4 linked regions of the Homo sapiens genome follow. The protein of the gene in region 2 interacts with the protein of the main gene of each other region in a pairwise test. Each region holds a gene or a part of one and is shown on either strand. Other genes may lie near its edges.

What was found.
Region 1: the proteins of CEP63 (region 2) and CAMKK2 interact in a two-hybrid assay, tested with the Homo sapiens proteins (2 studies listed by BioGRID and IntAct).
Region 3: the proteins of CEP63 (region 2) and BFSP2 interact in binary tests that used the Homo sapiens proteins (3 or more experiments, as listed by UniProt).
Region 4: the proteins of CEP63 (region 2) and SPTAN1 interact in a two-hybrid assay, tested with the Homo sapiens proteins (2 studies listed by BioGRID and IntAct).

Annotation. Positions count from the first base shown.
Region 1 is NC_000012.12:121,241,210-121,244,709, reverse strand, and holds part of CAMKK2 (calcium/calmodulin-dependent protein kinase kinase 2), read left to right. Parts: intron 1-94; coding exon 95-137; intron 138-580; coding exon of another isoform or gene 581-586; exon of another isoform or gene 587-1,122; intron 1,123-3,500. UniProt on the Homo sapiens protein: Calcium/calmodulin-dependent protein kinase belonging to a proposed calcium-triggered signaling cascade involved in a number of cellular processes. Isoform 1, isoform 2 and isoform 3 phosphorylate CAMK1 and CAMK4. Isoform 3 phosphorylates CAMK1D.
Region 2 is NC_000003.12:134,545,057-134,548,556, reverse strand, and holds part of CEP63 (centrosomal protein of 63 kDa), read right to left. Parts: intron 2,972-3,500; coding exon 2,738-2,971; intron 2,409-2,737; coding exon 2,269-2,408; intron 1,223-2,268; coding exon 1,085-1,222; intron 1-1,084. UniProt on the Homo sapiens protein: Required for normal spindle assembly.
Region 3 is NC_000003.12:133,445,056-133,448,555, reverse strand, and holds part of BFSP2 (phakinin), read right to left. Parts: intron 3,152-3,500; exon of another isoform or gene 2,981-3,151; intron 1,240-2,980; coding exon 1,157-1,239; intron 68-1,156; coding exon 1-67.
Region 4 is NC_000009.12:128,629,087-128,632,586, reverse strand, and holds part of SPTAN1 (spectrin alpha chain, non-erythrocytic 1), read right to left. Parts: intron 3,463-3,500; coding exon of another isoform or gene 3,400-3,462; intron 2,267-3,399; coding exon 2,212-2,266; intron 461-2,211; coding exon 264-460; intron 157-263; coding exon 103-156; intron 16-102; coding exon 1-15. UniProt on the Homo sapiens protein: Fodrin, which seems to be involved in secretion, interacts with calmodulin in a calcium-dependent manner and is thus candidate for the calcium-dependent movement of the cytoskeleton at the membrane.

The DNA of each region.
Region 1 (3,500 bases), on a different chromosome or scaffold from region 2:
TGGGGTCTGAGTGTCTCAGGGTGGGGGAACGGGCATCCCGTGGATCCCAAGGGTCCCTTCTCACTTCCCTTTTCCCTCCCTCTGGTGATTCCAGCAAAAAACCAACCAGGGAATGTGAGTCCCTGTCTGAGCTCAAGGTAACGCCCGCCTGCCTGTGCCGTAGCCTCTGCTGGGGCCTGAGGGGGGCGGGTGGGCAGCTGCAGAGCACGGGGGCATCCCCACCCGGGCAGATGCTCCTTCCAGCCTGGGCTGCTGTGGCCCGGCTCACCGCGGGCCTCCAGACCCAGTATTAGAATGAGGGGCCTCGGGGGCTTGGACCCAATGGTGGGTCATGCATGTGGGCTGGGGCTGCGGGTGCATGGCGCTCCAGCTGGAATGCCTGAGAATGCACCCAGGTCTGAAGATCCTGTGTGGCACCCATGTCTTCTCAGTGCACGTCAATGGTGTTGAAGCTCTGTCACAGGGCCCATGGGTGCCCCCCCGAGTCCGCATGGTCAGCACATAGGTCAGGCATGCTGCACTGTGTGGCTCTTCGCTAGGGGCTCTCCAGCCTCCACTTCTCTTTCTTTGATGTGTTTAGACCTAGAAAATAAGTCCCCTTCCTGCCTGTTGCAAAGTAACGTAAGAGTTCCCTCACCCGAGTGGATGCAGACCTTCTTGCTGTCAGCCACCCTTCCTTCATACACATAGCCAGCCCAGGTGACCAGAACCTCCCAGGACAGATGAGGCTTTGTGTCCTTATGAGACTGGGAGAACCTGCTGGGCACCCCTGCTGCAGGTGCTGTGGTGGGTGGGGACCCCACTGCCCTTCCCACTGAGCACATCATGGCTACCTGACTTGGTGGGAGCTCCAGGCAGTCACTTCTGTTTCTTAAACATAGCTTTACTGAGGTACAATTCACATACCATGTAATTCACCCACGGGAAGTGTATGATTCAGTGGTTTCTAATACAGACTTCTGCAGCCATTACCACCGTCAACTTTACGACATTTTCATCAGCCCAAGAAGACACCCTACACTCCTTAGCTGTCCCCATCCAACTCCCCCACCCCAGTAACCACTCAGAATAGGTATGGATTTGCCTATTCTGGACGTTTCGTATAAATGGCGTCATACACTACGTGGCCTTCTGTGTCTGGCTTCTTTCTCTCAGCATCATGTTTTCAAGGTTCATCCATGCTCTACATGTATTAGTGCTTCATTCCTTTTCATGGCCAAATAAGATTCCATTGTTTGGATGCACCTCACTTTGTTCATCCATTCCTCTGTGGATGGACTTGTCTCCACCTTTTGGCTATCGAATGAAGACTGATGCTATGAACATTTGTGTACAAAGTGTTAGGAGTTGGCTTACGAGATGAAATGGATTGACTAGCAGGCTGGATGCAGTGGCTCACGCCTGTAATCCCAGCACTTTGGGAGGCCGAGGCAGGTGGATCATGAGGTCAGGAGTTTGAGACCAGCCTGGCCAATATGGTGAAACCCCGTCTCTACTAAAAATACAAATATTAGCCGGGCATGGTGGCGCACACTTGTAGTCCCAGCTACTCGGGAGGTGAGGCAGGAGAATCACTTGAACCCAGGAGGTGGAGGTTGCGGTGAGCTGAGATCACGTCATTGCACTCCAGCCTGGGCAACAAGAGCAAAAATCTGTCTCAAAAAAAAAGGCTGGGCGCGGTGGCTCACGCCTGTAATCCCAGCGCTTTGGGAGGCCAAGGCAGGCGAATGACGAGGTCAGGAGATCGAGACCATCCTGGCTAACACAGTGAAACCCCGTCTCTACTAAAAATACAAAAAATTAGCCGGGCGCGGTGGCGGGCGCCTGTAGTCCCAGCTACTCGGGAGGCTGAGGCAGGAGAATGGCGTGAACCCGGGAGGCGGAGCTTGCAGTGAGCCGAGATTGCGCCACAGCACTCCAGCCTGGGCGACAGAGCGAGACTCCGTCTCAAAAAAAAAAGAAAAGAAAAAGAAATGGATTGGCCACCCATCCCGTGGGAGTCAGGGCTTATATGGTAATCTAGGAGGAACACCTGTTTGGGAATTATTTATGCTTTTGAGAGAAACCTTGCCCTCCAGCATAGAGCAGGGAAAATGGCAGTCCTTCAGAACCGGTCTTCAGCAGTCTCAGAAGGCAGACACAGTCCCCAGCTTGTGCCCAGACAGACGCCTGGGCAGCCCCGCCTTGGGTGTGAGCCTCACGGATGATGGAGTGGAAACCCAGCGGGCTGGCCTTTCCTCGGCCTTCCTCCTCTCAATCTCCATTTTAGGGTTTGCCAAACCGGGGCTGCCTCCTGTCTCTGAGCAAGTCTGCTGTTGGTTTCTTTCCTATTTTCTTTCTTTCTTTCTTTCTTTCTTTTTTTTTTTTGAGACAGGGTCTTGCACTGTTGCCCAGGTTGGAGTGTTGGAGTGTAGTGGTGTGATCTCGGCTCACTGCAACCTCTGCCTCCTAGGCTCAAGCGATTCTCCTGCCTCAGCTTCCTGAGTAGCTGGGTTTACAGACATGTGCCACCATGCCCAGCTAATTTTTGTATTTTTTTAGTAGAGATGGGGGTTTCACCATGTTGGCCAGGCTGGTCTTGAACTCCTGACCTCGGGTGATCTGCCTGCCTCAGCCTCCCAAAGTACTGGGATTACAGGCATGAGCCACTGTGCCCGGCCTTCGTTTCAATGAGATCAAAATTGCAAGACACCAGCAGATGGAGACTGGCCCCAAAGGGCTATGCTGCCCCTTCCTTTCTTCACCTGGGATCCCCTGCCCTCAGCCCCCAGCAGGTAGGATGCCTTGGTCATGGGAGCTCACAGAGCTGATTCAGGCACTGGGGGTCTTGGACTGGGGGCCTGCCTGCCGTCTGCAGTAAGACCCAACCCCTACCAACAGGCAACTGCGAGGGCAGAGACTGAGGGCCTGACCTAACGTCTAGTTACAGCGCCCCCCTCCCCAGGGACCTTACCCACATTCTCCATCAGAAACATAGCAAGCCAGACATCACGCTTCCTTTCCCTTGTGTAAGGACAGTCTCCCTCCTGGACAGGAGACACGGATTGTTGTGGGGGAAGGACAGACAGTAACCCATGTGGCATGCCCAGTGACCTCCCTAAGAACAGGGGAGCTGTGTGATGGTGGTGAGGGGATAGGCTCGGGGATTCCCCTCGCACCTGTCACGCCATCCACGCTGTCACACCGGCGGCTCCAGCCTGGGCTCTTCAGGGAAACAAGGGCTCTCCTCCTCCCACTTCCAAGAGGGAAGGGGCCTCCTCTTCTGTCTGAGGTGCTCCTCCCTCAGGGCTGGCTGCAGGAGGGCTGAGGCGGGAGGATCCCTGGAGCAGTTGTCATCTGCCCTTTCTTGAGGGCCAGCTGTGTGCCAGGCCAGGCAGGGGAGGCTCTGATCACCCCCACACACAAGGAACTCAACATCTGGTGACTGAGGACAAGCGTCACAGTCCCTTCCCTGTAAGGGCTCATAGCCTAAGTGGGGGATCGAAGTACCTAAAAACCTG
Region 2 (3,500 bases):
CAGAAAATGTCAGTGTACAAATGATCATGATTCATGTGTTTAAAACAAGATATCACACTCTTCCCAATCAAAAAGTTGAGAGGTTATGAAAAACCAAAAAAAATTCTATAAGTACGACAATGACAAGTGTTTAGGTGGGTATGGTATAGCATTAGTCAGGATTCAATTAACACCCAAGGAAGTAACAACACCACAGCAGAACAAAAAGGATCACCATGTGTCAACTGTTACCCCTTCCTACCCTGCTTCTGAGGTGGCAAGGAGGAAAACCTAAGTGAAGGGCTGCTAAACAGGTGAAAGGTAAAGAAGTAGAGTCAGTATAGACAACTCTTTTGAAGAATTTGGTCTTAAAGAGAAGTACAGAAATGTGGAAATAACTTGACGGAGACATAGGATTAAGGGATGGTTTTTCCCCCAGATGGGTGATGTTACAGCGTATTTTATACCAGTGGATAGATTCAGCAGACAGAAAGAACTTGATGATGCAGAAGAGAAAGGATATAACTACAGAAAAAGGACACAAGTGGAGTGGTTGGTCTTAGAAGTGCAGAAAGGCACAGGTATGGGCAGACTGGTAGATTTGATGACAGAAAGATTAAGAGGTTCTCCTTTAATTGCTTCTGTCTTCTCAATGAAATAAGAACTTAGGGCAGGGTGCGGTGACTCATGCCTGTAATCCCAGCACTTTGGGAGGCCAAGGCAGGTGGATCACCTGAGGTCAGGAGTTCAAGACCAGCCTGGCCAACATGGTGAAACACCGTCTCTACAAAAATATAAAAATTAGCCAGGCATGGTGGTGCACGCCTGTAATCTCAGCTACTCAGGAGGCTGGGGCAGAAGAATCAATTGAACCGGGAGGCGGAGGTTGCAGTGAGCTGAGATTGTGCCATTGCACTCCAGTCTGGGTGACAGAGCGGACTCCGTCTCAAAAAAAAAAAAAAAGAAATAAGAACTTAGGCCATTTGTGGATACTAGAAAAAAATCTTATTTTTTTTACTATGACTATTACATTCATTTACAATATGATGATCAAAAATTCATTTTAACAACTTGAAATTTTTGAAATGTGTGTATAATTATGTACCTGCCTTCAAGACAAGTCACCTCTGCCTGCAGAAGGTCCTCACTAGTATGGGTAAAATTCAACTGGGAGAGCACACTGTCTAAGTCCCCCTGCCCTTGAGAGGTGTACTTCTTTTCTGCCAGAGATTCTTCCCGTGGCCTATGGAAAGACATAGGATGATTGTTAACGCCTTTATCTCTGCAAACAAAAATAATGCTCATCTAGTCTGTGTTTCCCCATCATTTTTGGTAACCTCTTTGGAACTCTTCAAGTTTGTCTCCTGCTTTATAAAAAGAATATTGGGAGAGGAAAGAAAGAGTCAAGAGATGCTGATACTTCAAAAAGTAGCAATTTACTCCCTTCTTAACTGGGATTTGGCCTTTTTTCAAGGGAAAAAGACAAAATGGCAAAATCACTTCAGTGACACTTGAAACCCTGTACCAAAAAAACTGAAAAGTTACAGGAGAATTCTGGCAAAAATAAAAGTGTGCATCAGACTTAAATCAAGCAAGAGGGCTAGCCCAATGGCTGGCTGCTATTAATGATAAGCAGCTACTAATCACAACTTATTCCACCAACAAAGTGAGGCCTCCAGGAGACATGGATGACAATTCCCTGCACATTTGGATTTTCACCAAGCATGCAAACTGACCTTGGTTTCTAACTTTCTAAACATGAGAGTCTCTGTTAGGGACCCTAACTGGTGGCAGAAGAAAATTAACCACACAAAATTTTATAACACTTTAAAAACCTAACTCAGAAGTTAAAGCCAATTAAGAAAATCCACAATATGATCAAACATAAAATTATGAATATGCAATATGAAAACTAGTGCTTGGATGGGCGTGGCAGCTCACACCTGTAATCCCAGCACTTTGGGAGGCTGAGGTGGGCAGATCACCTGAGGTTAGGAATTTAAGACCGGCCTAGCCAACATGATGAATGCCCGTCTCTAAAAATACAAAAAACTAGCCAGGTGTGGTAGCATGCACCTGTAGTCCCAGCTACTTGGGAGGCTGAGCCTGGAGAATGGCTTGAACCTCGGAGGTTGAGGTTGCAGTGAGCTGAGATTGCACCACTGCACTCCAGTCTGGGCAACAGGAGACTATCTGAAAATAAAATAAAAATAAAAATAAAAATAAGCCTAGTGCTTAATACCTAGTCATTAAGTGGCTAAGATGAATAATATTTAAGATTAAATTTACCTTATAGCTTCTACAGCATGTTGAGTGTTAGTTGCCTTTACTTTTTCTTGTAACTTCTCCTTTTGTATTCTGGCCTCATGTATGAGATTTTCTTGAGACTGAAGAGCTGCCTTCAATTCTCTCTTTTCTTCCTGCAGAGCCTGCAAAAAAGTCAAATATGATTATAATTTTCCTTCTTTTTAATTCCTGCAGAACCTGCAAAATACTCAGAAATTTCTAAGCCAGCTATTATTACAATTTTTCTATTTCACGAGAAGCCAGGAAGTCAGACTATAAGTTACGTAACAATATTACAATATTGTAAATATTGTAATAAAGTCACAATATTAGTAAAACTATCAATATCTGATCCATCATTTATAAAGTAGGGAAGAAAGTATGGATTGTAGAACCTAGTTCTAGCTTAATAACACTCTCTTAAAATACTCATACACACACTTCCCCCAATTATAGTGATTTTAAAACATACCTCTAATAGTTTTTCAGATTCCCTCAATTTTTCTTCTTTTTGCTGCTGCTCCTGTAGGACAGTCATACTGGTTCCAACCAAGTCATTGACCCTCATGGTGAGGCGCTCTATTTCCAACTCATTGGCACAGATAGTGTCATTAGCCCGCTCCAGTTTACTGCTTAAGTGTTGAATTTCTGATTGGCTAGAAAGTTCCACAGACTCTAATTTCTGTTTCCGATTGACAAGCTGAGCCTAGAAACACAGACTATCAATCAATAGGTAAAAGGGAAATGATAAAATAATCAATGAATAAGACTAAAATGAAACTATTATTTCCATAAAAACATAAAGCATTGGCTCACTAAAATATATATATATATATTGCGAAGGGGTAAGAAAGAATTGAGAGGCTGGGAGTGGTGGCTCACGCCTGTAATCCTAACACTATGGGAGGCTGAGGCAGGCAGATCGCTTGAGCTCAGGAGTTCGAGATCAGCCTGGAAACATGGCGAAACCCTGTCTTTATAAAAAATACAAAAATTGGCCGGGTGCAGTGGATCACGCCTGTAATCCCGCACTTTGAGAGGCTGAGGTGGGCGGATCATGAGGTCAGGAGATTGAGACCATCCTTGCCAACATGGTGAAACCCGTCTCTACTAAAAATACAAAAATTAGCTGGGCGTGGTGGCGCGTGCCTGTAATCCCAGCTACTCGGGATCGGGAGGCTGAGGCAGGAGAATCACTTGAACCAGGGAGTTGGAGGTTGCAGTGAGCCGAGATT
Region 3 (3,500 bases), 1.1 Mb from region 2:
AATGACTTTATACAGAGAGTTAATTTCCTCTTCTGCCGCCTTTCGAAATGGCTGCTCATTTTCATATCTGCAGATAAAGGAACTTAATTAGCATAACTGAGTAGCCCAAAAGAAAAAGAATCAGATTATAAATGTTACCAACAGGCCAATTATGTGATAGTTAGACAATGAATGGTAAAAGTCACTGTTTCAATAGATTTGAGGGCACTGTTAGTGCAGTTGTCACACATTGATTTATTAAAATGAAGGCAATTGCAGCCAACTTCTGATAACCTGGCTTCCCGGGCTACCAGCCTCATGGGAGTGTTGCAACACAGAACTCCAGGGAAAACTCAGGAGTTCAGATCCAGGTTAGGGGATCCGGCATCTTCATCGCTATCCTGATTGTCCTCCTTTTCAACCAAGGATCCTTTAACAAACATTACTGACAACCTGCTAAGCACCAGGGTGGGGACCCCAAAATAAGAAATGTGGTTTCTGTCTCCAAAGCACCCATGTTAAAAGTGTCCATCTCCAGGAGAGTGGCTGCAAACCCAGATGCCTTCAGGGACTGAGTGGGAGGTGTAGCTGAGCACGGTTCTCAAGCCTGGATGCACATTAAGTCACCTGGTGAGCTCTAAAACTGCTGAAGCCTGGACCCAACCCCTGGGGACTCTGATTTAATTAGTCTATGGCTTGTGCACTGCACTGACATTTTTAAGTGCCCAGGTAATTCTGATATGCCCAGGTTGGAGAATCATTACTGTAAGCTAGTAGTTCTCAAAGTATTTGAGTCCCAGGACCAGCAGGATCAGCATCCCTGGGAACTTGTTAGGAATATAAATTTGGGGCCCTTCTCCAGACCCATTGAGTCAGAAATTCAACAGGGTGGGGCGCAGCAATCTCTGTTTTCTATATGGCCCCTGGGTGATTCTGAGCATTCCAGAGTTTGAGAACCCTGCTCTAAACCAACTGACAGTGGGCAAAATCTTTGAGCCCTTGGGGCCTACTTTATGTTTACAAGGAGGGGTGTGAGCTGGATAATCATGGCTCTGTTATCCTGCCAGCTTCCCCTGAGGTAGAAGGTGGATGATGCAGGCTCCAGAACAGCATTATCCACACTTGCCTAGGAGTCTAGGGATGTGGAGGGACTGTCGCCTCTGCTGTAAGACATTACCTCTCTTTAAAGTCATCTGCTCCGGCCTGGATAGTTTCTGTCTGCAGCATGAGCCGGGCATTTTCCAAGACTGCCTCACCCACCTAGAGCGATCACACACACCAAAGGAGACAAGGTCACTGGGAGCGTCAAGATCACTTACCACCATGACTTGTGTTAGGCACAGAGGCTCTGGGGGACCTCAGAGAACCTTTCTTACAGCAAATATTTGTGGAATTAAGATGTCCCTCTCTTTGGACAATGGTCAGGGTGGGGGGATATAAATAATAAGGCATAAAATCTGGATATCTTCTAAGAGTTTTTAGAGTGGGATTTTTGGCACAAAAAGACTATTCAAAGGCAGACTTGTTCATAGCCTCTGTCACAGTGACAAGCTTTCATCTCTCCAGGGCAGAGTCCGGCTCCTTAGATGAAGTTTCACTGGCTTTGCCTAGCAGCTCTTAAAATTTCTGGTCATGGATGCCTTTGGAAGGCTGGTGAAAGCTCTAGATGAGTGCTGAGAGAGCTTCCTGTGACGGTGGAAATGCTCTGTCTGCACTGTCCAGCATGGTGGCCACCCGTGGCTACCGTATTGGGCAGCGTGGCTCTAGAGTTTCGTCTCCCCCAAAACATACACGTGAACATAAACATTGTGGATATAGTTTAGGGGTTTCATGGAGCCTTGAGGAGTGGTTTTTCAAACTTGAATCCCCAAGCCTCTCAGGATCTCCCACAGGTAGGGAATGAGGGGTGTCCTCCCTTCAACCCAAGAAACTCCTTTATATATATATATATATATATATATATATATATATATATATATATATATATATATATATATATATATATAAATGGTGAGCTGAAGGCTCTGATAGGGGGAGCCTGCAGGGTGGAGCCAAATCCCAGCTATGGGAGAAGAAAATAACTGCTTTCCCCTTGCTCCAGTGTGGCTGTCTTATTTTGTTTCATTTCATTGAATTACTTTTTTTGTTTTTTCTTTGAGACAGAGTCTTGCTTTGTTGCCCAGGCTGGAGTGCAGTGGCACAATATCTGCTCACTGCAACCTCTGCCTCCCAGATTCAAGATATTCTCGTGCCTCAGCCTCCTGAGTAGCTGGGATTACAGGCATGTGCCACTGCGCCCAGCTAATTTTTGTATTTTTAATAGAGATGGGGTTTCACCATGTTGGCCAGGCTGGTCTCGAACTCCTGACCTCAAATTATCCACCCATCTTGGCCTCCCAGAGTCCTGGGGTTACAGGTGTAAGCCACCAAACCCTGCCATTTTCATTGAATTCCCCACTAGCAAAGCTAATCATTTCTGTTCCAGCTTGGCCTGGGGCACACTGGGGAGCAGGCAGACTAGGGTGTCTCCCTTTCCCAGTTCTTAATCACTCCTGTCTCTCACCTCTGGTGCCTGGAGTTCTCCTTCTGGTTGATAAAGAACTTGCAACTCATTCACATTTAAGTATCAAAGGACTAATATTGGCTTAAAATAGTGATTTATATCCTTCTTTTAAGGTAACAATTCCTACCCTCCAAAATTAAAGCTTATAGAAAACCTATGTACAGTTGTCCTTTGGTATCTATGGGGTCTTGGTTCCAGTCCCCCACGGATGCTCAAGTCTCTTATATAAAATGATGTAGTATTTGCATATAACCTACACACACATCCTTCCATATACTTTAAATCATCTCAAGATTACTTATGATACCCAATACAATGGAAATGCTATGTACATAGTTGTTATTTATTGTGTTATTTAGAAAATAATGACAAGAAAAAAGCCCACATGTTCAGTATAAACGCAATCATCTATTTTTTAAAAAATATTTTGATCTACAGTTGGTTGAATCCATGGATGTGGAACCCATGGATGTGAAGGACTGACTGTACTTTGCACTAGTGGTTCTCAAAGTGTGGGCCCTGGACCAGTGGCAGCAGCATCACCTGGGAACTTGTGAGAAATGCACTTTTCAGCTCCTGTTTCAGATGGACCTATCAGAATCTCTGCAGGTGGGTCCCAACAATTTGTGTCTCAGCAAGCTTTCCAGGGGCTTATGATGCATACTCAACCTTGAGAACCCCGGTTTCACATGGCCCTGCCCCCAGGCCTGCTCTAGCTGCCTCCCTGCTGCACCTGGAATCCCTCTGTGCCTTTGCACCTGCTGCCTCCATTGAGAGCAACTTGTTTCACTACCTCCCCACTCCCAGCCCTCAGTCTGAGAAAGCCTGCTCCAGTATAATGCTCATTTCAAACACGGCTTCCCCATGAAACTTTTCTATTTATTCACTCATTCATTCTTGCCTTAATTTCTTCAGCACATAATTACTGTTTATGCCAGGCTCTGTCCTGTTTGTTGAG
Region 4 (3,500 bases), on a different chromosome or scaffold from region 2:
TCCTTGTCAAAGTGTCTGCAGCACAAAGCCGAGGGCGGCTCAGCAGGCAGCCCTGCTGCCGAACACCCCCCACCCAGCCAGGGCGAGTAAGGCTGAACTCACTTAAACATCATGCTGAATTCTTTGAGGGCCTCCTCAGTCACACCTGTTGTGTTCCTGGAAGAAAAACAGAAATTAGGGAACAGACCCTCCACACAGCAGGTGACTGTGTCTTTTCCTCCCCCTGCTCTGGGCTGAGCCTGGCCCACAGCCCTCCCGGGTACCTGGCCTGGATCTGCTGCTCCAGGTTGTGCTGCATGCGCATGCCCAGCTGGTCCAGCTGGTCCCACTGCTGGGCGAGGCCCACGGTGCTGTGCTCCGTGTACTTGTTGTCCAGGATGAGGGCCTCCTCCATGGCGGCCCCCAGGTCCTCGATCTTTTTGAGCTGACTTCTCATGGCTCGGATTTCCTGGTGCTTGCGCTGCAGGGGTGGGGAGCACAGATGCTCAGACGGGGGCCCTCAGCTCAGTCACCAGCCCAGGAGCCACTTACTGCCCTCTGGTTCCTGCTCCAGGCCTGGCCTGAGACCTCGTAAAACAAGAACATTCTAGAATAGGAATAGTGGGATGGGGTGAAGCTGAAGAAATCCCAACCACCTCAATAGAGGGAGAGACTTTCAATGTGAGGGTTCCAAAGCAGCTGGTAGACCTGCCAGAGGGCAGTGCACGCCAAGGACAAGTACGGCGAGGACTCCAGGAAGCAGTGGCCAAAGATTTTTATAAATTTTTTTGAGATGGAGTCTCACTGTCGCCTAGGCTAGAGTGCAGTGGCGCAATCACGCTCACTGCAACCTCCCGGGTTCAAGTGATTCTCCTGCCTCAATCTCCTGAGTAGCTGGAACTAACAGGTGCCCATCACCACACCTGCCTAATTTTTGTATTTTTAGTAGAGGCGATGTTTCACTGCATTGACCAGGCTGGTCTTGAATTCCTAGGCTCAAGTGATCTGCCTGTCTTGGCCTCCCAAAGTTCTGGGATTATAGGCATGAGCCACTGCACCCAGCCTTATTTTTAAGACAAGGTCTTGCTATATATTGCCCATGCTGGACTTTGAGCAGGTGTAGGCCACCATGCCCAAGTAATTTTTTTCAGAGGGAGTTTTGCTCTTGTCACCCAGGCTGGAGTGCAATGGCCTGATCTCGGGTCACTGCAACCTCCGCATCCCAGAATCAAGTGATTCTCCTGCCTCAGCCTCCTGAGTAGCTGGGATTACAGGTGCCTGCCACCACACCCAGCTAATATTTTGTATTTTTAGTAGAGATGGGGTTTCCCCATGTTGGCCAGGCTGGTCTCGAACTCCTGACTTCAAGCAATCCACCCGCCTCGGCTTCCCAAAGTGCTGGGATTACAGGTGTAAGTCACCACACCCAGCCCCAAAGACTTTCTTTAAAGTGAAGAGCCCTCGGCCGGGAGTGGTGGCTCATGCTTGTAATCCCAGCACTTTGGGAGGCTGAGGTGGACAGATCACTGGAGATCAGGAGTTCCAGACCGGCCTGGCCAACAAGGCAAAACACTGTCTCTACTAAAAATATAAAAACTAGGCCAGATGTGGTGGCTCACGCTTGTAATCCCAGCACTTTGGGAGGCCGAGGCGGGCAGATCAGCCGAGGTCAGGAGTTCGAGACCAGCCTGCCTGGCCAACATGGTGAAACCCTGTCTCTACTAAAAATACAAAAATTACCCAGGTGTGGTGGTGGGCGCCTGTAATCCCAGCTACTTGGGAGGTTGAGGCAGGAGGATCACTTGAACCCAGGAGGTGGAGGTTGCAGTGAGCCAAGACCACGTCCATTGCACTCCAGCCTGGGCAACAAGAGTGAAACTCCATCTCAAAAGATAATTAAAAATAAACAAAAATTAGCCAAATGTGGTGGCACACATCTGTAGTACAGCTATTTGGGAGGCTGAGGCAGGAGAATTGCTTGACCTGGGAGGTGGAGGTTGCAGTGAGCCAATATCGCACCACTGCACTCCAGCCTGGGCGAGAGAGAGATTCCATGAAGAAAGAAAGAAAAGAGAGAGAGATAGTGAAGAGCCCTAGACTGCTTTAGGCCAAGGGAAAAGGGTACAATAATAGCACATCTGGTTCCTGACTTTAAGCCAGGAAGGGAAGGGGTACCCTGGGGGGTGGCTGGGTGAAGGGTCTCTGCTGGGCCAGAGCCCCACGGGCACTTACTTTGGTAGCTTCAAGCTGGGATTCGAGGGTCCCCGACTCTTCCACCATACAGGACCTAAACGTGGAAGGACAGTGAGGAAAGGGGCCTGCTCCCAGCTGGCCGAGAGCTCAGAATGAACCTTCTCTCAGAGAGAGCAATGCCTGGCAACCTCACATTCCTTTTAAGGAAACCAAACCTAACTGCAACTGGCCATCTTTACCTAATGGGCCCCAGGGATCGAGGGATGGCAGGGAGCATTTCTCCCGTTTTAGAGATGGGAAGCTGCTGCCTTGGTGTGGGCCAGGGCTGAGCCCACTCGTCTTGCTCCCAAGGCCAGGATGACTCAGGAATGGAGTTTAAATTCCCCCATGGGTGCAGGGTGGCTGCAGGCCTGTCTGAGCATCCTCTCTGCAGCCATGTGGGGGATGGCACACCCTGACACCTGACAGACAGGAGACCTCAGGGCAGAGGGGAGGCTGAGAACCTGACAGCCTCCCCACAGAAACCCTGGAGTGTCCCGGCAAGGTTCCTGAGGGAGGGAGCCCCATTCTAGGGGGAATGAGAGCACGACCCTGCAGACAAAGGACACAAGTGGAGTGCTGGGAGATCACGACCAACTGTGCCAAAAGGAGAGAGATGGCTGTGACTAAACCCCAGATCCCGGTTCCATCCTCTAGACACAGCCAGGGAGGGAGCCTCCTCTCTAGGACCAAGTTCTGAGAGCAGATGGGCTCTGGGGAGCCTCCTTCCCAAGAGAACACAGTGCCAGGTCACAGAGGCTACCAGTAAACAAAGACAACAAACGAGTTAGGGTTACGTGCAGGGACGAATCACACGGTGCGTGTGGCCTTGGTGGGGTTTTAGCCCAGGCTCCCCTGTACCCACATTCACCCCAACCTACCCTTTTAAAACCCGGCGAGCCAGGGTTAGCTCTGCAATCTCCCCAGGTTCAAAGTGCTCTAGCAAGGCAAGGCACCAGGCTTCCTCCTACCCCAGCAGGTCAGACTCACAGTCACGCCATGTCCCCCCGGGGAAAATGCCCCCCAGGACCTGGGGGCAGGAGGCTGGGTGCCGGTGCAGTGGGAGGACAGACCCCTCCTTCCCAAGCAGCCGAGGGCGGCAGGTTAGTCAGGGTGGAGCCGCCTGGGGATGTCAAGAGTGCATCAGTAAAGCCACAGTGAGGTAAGAAGAGAAATAAGGAGAAAAACCTTCCAGACAGATCATCCCCAACTTCATACTGATAGACACGAATGACCCGACGATATGCTATGCTATTCAAAGAAAAGAAACCAAATGAATACACCAAAGG